Regions from separate parts of the Homo sapiens genome. Here region 1 is linked to region 2. Evidence: fine-mapped expression QTL. A gene starts in region 2. The other region holds a variant in brackets. All regions are shown on one strand. Distances are between the middles of the regions. Region 1 overlaps BCAS4 (breast carcinoma amplified sequence 4). Region 2 holds the start of BCAS4 (breast carcinoma amplified sequence 4).

Region 1 (5,351 bases), 84 kb after region 2:
TTGGTCCCTTTGGGTGGCCGGCTTTGGCTGTCACAGGCAGTGCTGTCAGAGGAGCTCAGAGTCTTTGGTCATATGTGTGAGTCCTGCAGGATGAACTTGTAGACCGGGAATTCCTGGGTCATGGAACAAGTGGATCCAAATCGCTGATAGAGCTTCATTTCTTGTCATTCCAGAAGTCACCTGCACCGGTGCCCGTGACGTACGAGCTGCCCACACTGTATAGGACGGAGGACTATTTTCCTGTGGACGCCGGGGAAGCACAGCACCACCCCCGCACCTGCCCTCGGCCTTTGTGAGCTTTGTGGTCTTCCCATCAGGAACGCTGGAAAGTGACATTGTGTACACACTGCAGCTTGGGGGTTTTTTCTTTGTATTGCTGTTTATTTTATATTTTAAAAATATTTAAAAAAATGTCGAGATGGGGTCTCACTATGTTGTCCAGACTGATCTCAAACTCCTGGGCTCAAGTGATCCACCCACCTTGGCCTTCCAAAGTGGTGGGATTATGGGCAGGAGCCTCCGTGCCCAGGCTGCTGCCATTTTCAAATTTCCTCCCTGCCTCATGTGAGACCACAGGGTTTGGAGAAGCAGTTGGAACCCACGTGTGGTGATGCCTCCCACATCGGCCTGCTTGGGGTTCTACAGGGGTTGAGGGACCAGGCCTGGCCGGGGCTGATGGACAGTGGGGACTTTCCTTCTCTCCATGATGGCTTTGCAGGGGCTCCATGGTCCTTCTCTCTGTGATGGGTTTTTGCACGGGGTGTGCTCTGCCACTGTGGTGGGTGGGTGGATGCTGCTTCTGTTGCCTCCAGACCTCGGTGCCCACAGCCTTGAGGATCCTTCCAATAAAGGTGTCAAGAGCTCAGCCCTGGTCTGGTGTGAGAATGACGGGGAGTGATAGTTTCCTTTTCACCTGTGCAGTGTTTTCTAGAAGGTTCCTCCTGTGCCTCACCTGCGAGGGCCTGATCCTGGGCACCTGCTGATGAGGCTCCAGCTGAGGGAGGGGTAGTCCCGGCCTTTGGATTTCCAGCAAGAGTGCAGAGGTCATTAGGACCCCCAGGGTCTTCAAAGGCTTGTTTACCCACATTTCTTCCCATGCAGATGAGTTTCCTGCTATTGTCCTAACACTCCGGATTTCTCACTGTGGCTTCAACCTGCAATGGGTATTTCTGGAATTCCTCGAAGAGCCAAGAACACACACATAATTCCCCTATGCACATACAGGACTGAACTGTAAATCTGCATTAGAATTTCAAGATAATCTGCCTGGGCAAGGTGACTCATGCCTGTAATCCCAGCATCTTGGGAGGCTGAGGCAGGAGGGTCGCTTATGCACAGGGTCAAGACTGCAGTGAGCCGTGATTGTTCTACTGCACCCTAGCATGTGCAACAGAGCAAGACCCTGTCCCCCACACCCCAAAAAAGTTTTTCAAGGAAGCCTAAAATAATGAATCTGGCAAGATAGAGTAGAGGCCAGGTGCAGCGGCTCATGTCTGTGATCCCAGCACTTTGGGAGGCCGAGGCAGGCAGATCGCCCAGGAGTTTGAGACCAGCCTGGGCAACATAATGAGACCATATCTCTACCAAAAATACAAAAATTAGCCTGGCGTGCTGGTGCACATCTGTGGTCCCAGCTACTTGGGAGGCTGAGGTGGGAGGATTGCTTGAGCCTGGGAGGTTGAGGCTGCAGTGAGCCATGATTGTGCCACTGCACTCTAGCCTGGGTAACCAAGTGAGATCTTGGCTAAAAATGTTTTTAAAAATTAAAAACAGAAAAGCAGGGAAATAGTTTAGACAATTTTTGGAATTCAGAGATATAGGTAGACCCCTTGTTTCTGGAAAAGTCAGCATTTTTATTCTCTTTTCTTTTTTTTCGAGATGGAGTCTCACTCTGTCACCCAGGCTGTAGTGCGGTGGCATGATCTCAGCTCACTGCAACCTCCGCCTCCCGAGTTCAAGCTATTTTCCTGCCTCAGCCTCCCAGGAAGCTGGGATTACGGGAGCACACCACCACGCCCAGCTAATTTTTGTATTTTTAGTAGAGACGGGGTTTCGCCATGTTGGTCAGGCTGGTCTCGAACTCCTGACCTCAGGTGATCCTCCTACTTTGGCCTCCCAAGGTGCTGGGATTACAGGTGTGAGCCACCATGCCCGGTCAGCATTTTTTTATTGAGGTGACTTTTACAATTTTTTTTTTCTTTAAATGAGACACCTGTCACCCAGCCTGGAGTGCAGTGGTGTGATCATGGCTCCCTGAAACCTCAAGCTCCTGGGCTCAAGTGATCCTCCTGCCTCAGCCTCCCAAGTAGCTGGGACCACAAATGTGCACCACCATGCCTGGCAACTTTTCAAATTTGTTTTATTTTTTGTAGAGACAGGGTCTCCCTATGTTGTTCAGGCTGGTCTTGAACTTCTGGGCTCAGGGGACCCTCCTGTTTCGGCCTCCCAAAATGTAGTGTTGGCACAAACCTTTATT[G/A]AAGTATAATTTATATTACAGAAAGGGGTGCCTAAGTGGTTCACTAAATTTTTCACAAACTGAGTGTATCTATTTAAGCCTCACCAGACTGAGCAACCAACATTATCAGCACTGAGCAGCCCCCTCATGCCCGCTTCTGGTCCATGCCCATACCCACCCCCACCCCAGGCTGACAGCATACTGACATCTAACCATATGGACTGGAGTTTCTTGTTTCTGTGCTCTGTATAAAGAGAGGACACACGGGATGTGTACCTACGGTGTGTCATCTCTTGTCTCTGGCCTCACCGGCTTGATGTTACCTTGGGAGGTGTCACTGTTGCTGTGTCACTGTAGATCATTCCCATGGCTGTGTTGTATTGGCTGGGACTGTTTTTATCGAAGGGAGCTTGGACACTCTGCATGCCCCAGTGTGCTCAGGGAGAGCACACGTTGGATGGAAAGTTGGCCGGGTGAGGTGGCTCACGCCTGTAATCCCAGCACTTTGGGAGGCCAAGGTGGGCAGATCACTTGAGGTCAGGAATTCGAGACCAGCCTGGCCAACATAGTGAAACCTCATCTCTACTAAAAATACAAAAATTAGCCAGGTGCTGTGGTGCACCCCTGTAATCCCACCTACTCGGGAGGCTGAGGCAGGAGAATCGCTCGAATCTGGGAGGTGGAGGTTGCAGCAAGCCAAGATCGTGCCACTGCACTCCAGCCTGGGCAACAGAGCGAGACCCTATCTCAAAAAAGAAGAAAAAGGAGAAAGCTAATGTTAATTTTTTAGACAAGCAGTTGAGGACACTCATTTCCGGAAGGGTGAGTATCTGCTGAGTGTTGGGCACTCCCAGGCTTCTTTCTCCTCCCAGCCCCTGAAACAGGGGCCAGGGAGAGTTGGAAGGAAATCCCATGTGATTAAGCCGCAGCAACGTTGAGTGTCCTAAAGCAGGGACCCACAGGCCCCACGCTAGGAGCATGGCCCTGAGGTTAGCCTGCCTGGCAGCACTGTCCGCTCCCATGCCTCTTAGCTGTGTGAGCTGGGCTTTTCACTTGCTCTCTCTGAGTCCAGCTGCCCCTGCGGTAAGACATGAGGATGGCTCTGGTCTGATGGGTTGTGGTGAGGGTGACATGAGGTGAGCTGTGTGCATGCTGGGCACACTGGCGAGGGGCTCTCAGTAATGGGAGGCTGCTGTTGCAGGGCCCGGGCTGTGATGGGGAAAGGGTTGATTGTCCTGCGTTTCTCAGTTGACCAGCGGCATCCGAGGGCCTGAACAGCGAGTGACTCAGGGACTGCCCTTACGTGTCAGAGTTAGAAGTCATGGGAGAATGGAGGCTGCTCTCTCTGGGTTTCCCTGTCCTGTTAGGAGGGGTGAGGTTGCACAGGAAATCTATGGGGAAAAGGTGACAAGTGAACTGGAAGTAGCCGTTCCAAAGTTCCTAGGATTTGCACTGCCAAACAATGAGCTTTAAGGGACGCTTGGAAACATCTGGGGAGAAGGAAGGCCGGGACACTGCGCCCTGCCATCACCAACCCCTAACCTCAGTCCTCTGAGCGGCTCCACTGTCCCTGTGCCAGGTGACTTCATGTGCGTCCTCATTAAAGCAAAGTGCCTGACATTTCCATTGTCCAGTCAATGATGTCCTCGGTTGCTGACTATTGATGGCCTCTAACCCCTTGGTAAGGGTAACTGCAGCCTAGGAAAGGGTGATCTGATCTTTCTCTTTTTTAAACAGAGACGGGGTTTTGCTATGTTGTCCAGGCTAGTCTCAACCTCCTGGGCTCAAGCGATCCTCCTACCTTGGCCACCCAAAGTATTGGGATTACAGTCGTGAGCCACCGAGGCCTGCCAGTCTTTTTCTTTTGTGGCTGATGTTGGACAGGGACACCAGTAGAAAGGTCACTGCAGATTTCTTCCCAAGAGCAAGGCTCTTCGGTCAACCCCCTTTCCCACTTTCCCAGCGGATGTGAACTTCGTGCTCACCAAAGCAAGAGGTTTCAAGGTAGCAGCCCATGGGGTTGTATCTGATTGGCAGAAATGTGTGGTTTGCCCTGAATTGTTTTAAGATGTTTTCATGTTGTGACAATTGGGTAAACTTCTGGAAAAAATAGAGCTCCATACCTCACTCAGCACACCTGGATTGTAAATCGATTAGGAGCTTAATGTATAAAATGAATCTATTGGCCGGGTGCAGTGGCTCACACCTGAATCCTACCACTTTGGGAGGCCAAGGTGGGTGGATCGCTTGAGCTCAGGAGTTCAAGACCAGCATGGGCAACATAGCAAAACCCCTTCTCTGTAAAAAATAGAAAAATTAGCCAGGCATGGTGGTGCTTGCCTATAGACCCAGCTACTTGGTGGGAGGTGGGAAGATTGCTCGAGCCAGGGAACTTGAGGCTGCAGTGAGCTGAGATTGTGCCACTGCACTCCAGCCTGGGTGACAAAGTGTTACCCTGTCTTAGAAAGTAAAATAAAACGAATCTATTGAAGAAATAGGTTAAAAACATTGGCGAAGTGTACAAAATCGAGAAGCCATAAAAGAGGTCAATTTGATTATATAAAATTTTTAAACTTCTGCATGGCAAAACCAACGGAAAACTCAACCAAAAAATCCCAAAACAACAAAATCCTAAGCAAATTCAAAAGATAGATGACAAATTGGGAAAATATATTTGCATCTCATGCTACAAAGGGATAATCTCCCTAAAAAATGTCACCTACAAAAAAGGGAAACAGTAGCAAAACAGGCAAAGGCTATGAACAGGAGTTTCACAGAAAATGCAAAACATGAAAAGATACTCAACCTTAATGTATGCCAATAAGTATGGAAAAATACCCTGAGATTTTTCACATTTCAGGCTGGCAAGGATTAAAATTTTTGATGACACTATTGA
Region 2 (5,315 bases):
CCGAACACCTGACGTCAGGAGTTCAAGACCAGCCTGGCCAACATGGCAAAACCCCGTCTCTCCTAAAAACACAAAAATTAGTCAGGCGTAGCTGGGTGCGGTGGCTCATGCCTGTAATCCCAGCACTTTGGGAGGCTGAGGCGGGCAGATCACCTGAGGTCGGGAGTTCGAGACCGGCCTGGCCAACATGGTGAAACCCCGTCTCTACTAAAAATGCAAAAATTAGCCAGGCGTGGTGGTGGGCACCTGTAATTCCAGCTACTTGGGAGGCTGAGGCAGGAGAATCACTTGAACCCTGGAGAAGGAGGTTGCAGTGAGCCGAGATTGCGCCACTGCACACCAGCCCGGGCTACAGAGACTCCGTCTCAAAAAAAAAAAAAATATTAGGCGTAGTGGCATGTGCTTGTAATCCCAGCTACTTAGGAGGCTGAGGCAGGAGGATCACTTGAACCTGGAAGGTAGAGGTTGCAGTGAGCTGAGATCGTGCCACTGCACTCCAGCCTGGGCGACAGAGCGAGACTCTGTCTCAAAAAATATATATATATTAAATCCCTCTTGGGCTGGGTGCAGTGCCTCACTCCTGTAATCCCAGCACTTTGGGAGGCCGAGACTGGTGGGTCACTTGAAACCAGGAATTGGAGACTGGCCTGGCCAACATGTTGAAACCCTGTCTCTACTAAAAATACAAAAATTAGCCAGGCTTGGTGGTGCTTGTTCCTGTAATCCCAGCTACTGGGGAGGCTGAGGTAGGAGAATCGCTTGAACCCGGGAGGCAGAGCTTGCAGTGAGCCGAGATTGTGCCACTGCACTCCAGCCTGGGCAACAAAGCAAGACTCTGTCAAAAAACAAAAAAAAGAAAGAAAGAAAGAAAAGAAAAAGAAATCCCTCCCTCCCATACCCCTCTCCAGTTTCTTCTCCCCCGCCCTAAAGTAACCACTTTTGGAACATGGGGTACGTCGTTCCCATGCACAGCTTTGTACTTTTGCTCCATCTGTCGGTGTCCATAAACAATATACAGTGTGGTTCTGCGTGTTTTAAAAACTGTGCTAATGGCACAGTGCCCTACAGAGCCTTCTGCAACACGACTTTTCTTCCTTAGCTTTATGTTTCTGAGATTTATCCACCAGGAGAAGTTTGCTGTGCTCAGGTCAATTTGGTGATCTGAGGCCAGTCCTGGGCTCTTTGTGGGAGATGCCTAGCCAGCAGGCAAGGGCAAGGGTCTGAGACCGGCTCCCAGGGGATGGCGAGGAGGGCTCAGAGCATCAGGGAAATCATGACAATGACGAATGGCCGAGTGTGGGCTCAGTGAGTTCCTATAAAACCCTTAAGCACTTGAGGCCCAAGTCTTTGCCAAGAATTTTCCAGAAAATGACTGGCCTGAAGGCCTGGATATTTGGATAGGGAGAAATTAGCAGTGGACAGATTTGGAAGTGGGAATTGTGCAGTGATGGACTACACAAAAGGCAGGTCAAACATGTGTTGTTTAGGCCCCTACCTAGGGTGGCCAACTACAATATAAATTCAGATTTAATGGAGAGGAAGGTGTGGGACGTCCTATATATTTATTTGCACCCTTGATACCAGCCCCTCCTTTTTAAAAAACAACAACAACAACAAAAGACAGAGTTTCACTGTGTCACACAGGCTGGAGTGCAGTGGTGCGATCATAACTCGCGGTAGCCTTGAACTCCTGGCCTCAAACAATCCTCCTGCATCTGCCTCTCCAGTAGCTAGGACTACAGTTGTGCCCCACCACATCCTGCAATTTTAATTTTTTTTTTTCTTTTAGAGAGATGGAGTCTCCTTATGTTTGCCCAAGCAGCTCAGCCTTTTTTTTTTTTTTTTTTTGTGAGGCGATTTAACATTTAAAGAAAAGTCAGCAGGCAGGGGGCGCTGGCCCACGCCTGTAATCCTAGCACTTTGGGAGGCCGAGGCAGGTGGCTCACCTGAGGTCAGGAGTTCGAGAGCAGCCTGGCCAACATGGCGAAACCCCGTCTCTACTAAAAAATACAAAAATTAGAATTAGTCGGGCGTGGTGACAGGCGCCTGTAATCCCAGCTACTCGGGAGGCTGAGGGAGGGGGAGAATTGCTTGAACCCGGAATGTGGAAGTTACAGTGAGCCGAAATCGCACCACTGCACTCCAGCCTGGGCGACAGAGCGAGACTCCGTCTCCAAAAAAAAAAAATTAATTAATTAAAAATAAAAATAAGTCATCAAACGAAAAATCAAAACTTCAGACTTGTCTTATACCTATTTGCCTTTTAGTACTTTCCTCATTAGCACTGTTGGGGTGGGAGATGAGGCGCACCTCGCTCTCTTCAGCCCCAAGGCTTGTAAAGGGTCTATCTAGGCCGGCCTCCGAGGGCATGGAGGGAGTGGGTGCGGTTGTGAAATGTAGTGCGCTCAATAGTTTCCTGGTGAAGTTTATTTTAAAATCCGCACCGAAGAGGAAGACGAGGACCGTCACACTCGGCCTTCCCTAAATTCCAGGACCCTCCGCCCGATGCAAACTAGATGCTTTAGTAGGATGGGAACGGGTGGGGGGCGGGCGGCTTTGGGCTTCCTCTAAGCTAGCGCCTCTCTAACCCGGACGCCCGTTAGAATCACCCGGGGAGTTTTAGAAACTACCGATGCCCAAGCCCCACTCCGAAGGATTCCAACTTAATCGGCCTGGTGCGAGGCCTGGCTTCCGGGCTTTTAAAAGCTTCCCGGGGATTCTATTTTACGGCCGGGTCCGGGGCCGGGAGCCTGTACTCTACCGGGATTCCGATGGGGAGGGGTGGCTTGCCCCAATAGTTCTCAAATTTAGCTTTGGGTCAACAATCTGGTTGGAACCACCTAACAAACATCAAAAGATCCTGATGCCCAGGTCTTAACCCAGAGACGGTGTGGTCCAGGCTTGGGAAATTCTAAAAGAGCTCCAGGTGACTGCCATCTGCAAGCGAGTTTGCAAAGCACTGATGCCCAGGTGCTGCGGGGGCGGGCGCAGCGCGCGCCGCTCGCCACTGGGTGGCGCTGCCCGCTCGGCCCGGCGCTCCTGGAGCTGCGAGCCGCGACCGCCGGGAGCGCACCTGCCCCGCCTCCGCCAGGCGGTCCGCGGGGCATGCAGCGGACCGGGGGCGGGGCTCCGAGGCCCGGGCGCAACCACGGGCTCCCAGGCAGCCTCCGCCAGCCGGACCCCGTCGCCCTCCTGATGCTGCTCGTGGACGCTGATCAGCCGGAGCCCATGCGCAGCGGGGCGCGCGAGCTCGCGCTCTTCCTGACCCCCGAGCCTGGGGCCGAGGTAGGGGACGGGGCTGTGGAGTTGGAGGAGAGGGTTCTCGCGGTTAGGGGTCCGGGCTCCGGACCCTCGGCTTCCCCGGAGCATCCTCTCGCTCCCGGAGTGGGGGGCCCGGGGATTCCCCCCTTCCTGAAGGGTGGCTGCGGGGCGCCACGCAGAGATGTGCAGCGGGTCGTCCCTGCTCGCTCCTCCGGGCGACACCGGGCCCCGGAGGCCCAGGCTCGCTTTCCCTCCCCACCCGGGTCCCCCAGCATCCGCCGGGTCCTCAGGCGCCGCCCTTTGCCAGGCCGGCCCTGGGAGAGGCGGACCCCGGGACCTCTGCTGCCCCGGCTACCTCCGAGCGGTGCCCGGGCCGAGCGGCGCCTCAGGCTGCGGCTGTGCGGGCCGCGCTGCGCTGCTGCAGCTCGGAGCGAAAACACCACGCCTCTGTCTGCGCTTTCTATTTTAAAAGCACCAAGTGAAAAGCAGATCTAAAACGAGACCCTCTACCTTCCGGCTGGAGGCATCTGTCGACGCTGTTGTGAAAAAGTTATTTGTCTGAGTTCACTAGGAGTTATTTACGGTCAGAAATTCAACCCATTCTCTTTTTAAACCACAAAAGCAGTACAGGAGTATTTAACATAAAGGCTATGCACCCCTTTCTCTTTTCTCTCCCACCCCAATTCTAGTTTTCTTAGAAAACCAGCATTAACTGTTTGGTATAAATCATTCCGGACATTTAAAATGCATTTACAAATGTAGATATCTGTATCTGCCTAGGCAGAGTATTGGCTCATGCCAGTGGTCCCAGCATTCTGGGAGGCTGAGGCAGGAGGATTGCTTGGGATGGGGATAGGGGACGGGGAAGAGTGAGGCTGCAGTGAGGCTTGATCATGCCACTGCACTCCAGCCTGGGCGACAGAGTGAGACATTTAAAAAAAAATCTATCTCGCCAGGCCTGGTGGCTCACGCTTGTAATCCCAGCACTACTGGGAGGCCGAGACGGGTGGATCACCTGAGGTCAGGAGCTCGAGACCAGCCTGACCAACATGGTGAAACCCCGTCTCTACTAAAAATACAAAAATTAGCCGGGTGTGTAATCCCAGCTACTTGGGAGGCTGAGGCAGGAGGATCGCTTGAACCTGGGAGGCGGAGGCTGCAGTGAGCTGAGATCAGCCATTGCATTCCAGCCTGGGCAACAAGAGCAAAACTCCCTCTCAAAAAAAAAAACCATAAAATATCTTTCCATATATATATATATACATATATATGAGTTTTCTCTTTTTTCTTTTTCTTTTTCTCCATATATATATATATATATATATATATATATATATATTTTTTTTTTTTTTTTTTTTTTTTTTGAGATGGAGTCTTGCTCTGTCACCAGGCTGGAGTGCATTGGCATGATCTCAGCTCACTGCAACCTCCGCCTCCCAGGTTCAAGGAATTCTCCTGCCTCAGCCTCCCGAGTAGCTGGGACTACAGGCGTGTGCCACCATGCTCAGCTAATTTTTGTATTTTTCAGTAGAGACGGGGTTTCACCATGTTGGCCAGGATGATCTCTATCTCTTGACCTCGTGATCCACCCTCCTCGGCCTCCCAAAGTGTTGGGATTACAGGCGTAAGCCACAGCGCCCAGCCATCTCCACATATTTTTAAAATAATTTTTGAACAGACGTTTTTAATTTTTTTTTTTTTGACAGGGTTTCACTTTGTCACCCAGGCTGGAGTGCAGTGACACAATCATAGCTCAATGTAGCCTCAACCTCCTGGGCTCAAGTGATCCTCCCACCTCAGCCTCCCGCATAGCCAGGACCACAGGTGCGCACCACCATGTCAGGTTAACTTTTAAAACAAAGTTATTTTGTGGAGACGAGATCTCACTATGTTGCCCAGGCGGGTCTTGAATTCCTGGGCCCAAGAGATCCTTTGGCCTCAGCCTCCCAAAGTGCTGGGATTATAGGCATGTACCACCATGCCTGGCCCATCTATATTAGTTTTAAATGAAACCTCACTTGCTGCTGTAATACTGTCCTGCAACTTGCTTTTCT

What was found. PIP is the estimated chance that this variant, and not a neighbour inherited with it, causes the effect.
Region 1: its variant is the best candidate, but not a certain one, in a credible set for the expression of BCAS4 in whole blood (TOPMed, PIP 0.85).

The regions. Positions count from the first base shown.
Region 1 is chr20:50,876,313-50,881,663 of GRCh38, forward strand. It overlaps BCAS4 (breast carcinoma amplified sequence 4), which reads left to right. Exons shown (of 5, transcript NM_198799.4): 5 at 174-865. The coding sequence ends at 296. Among named protein-coding and RNA genes, the nearest start is that of ADNP-AS1, 52 kb to the right of the region's middle. RefSeq lists enhancers at 1-409, 3,068-3,569, 3,570-4,069. The variant G/A (reference allele first, on the strand shown) is at 2,477.
Region 2 is chr20:50,791,889-50,797,203 of GRCh38, forward strand. BCAS4 (breast carcinoma amplified sequence 4) reads left to right here and starts at 3,173. Exons shown (of 5, transcript NM_198799.4): 1 at 3,173-3,285. The coding sequence starts at 3,196. RefSeq lists a silencer at 2,906-3,725.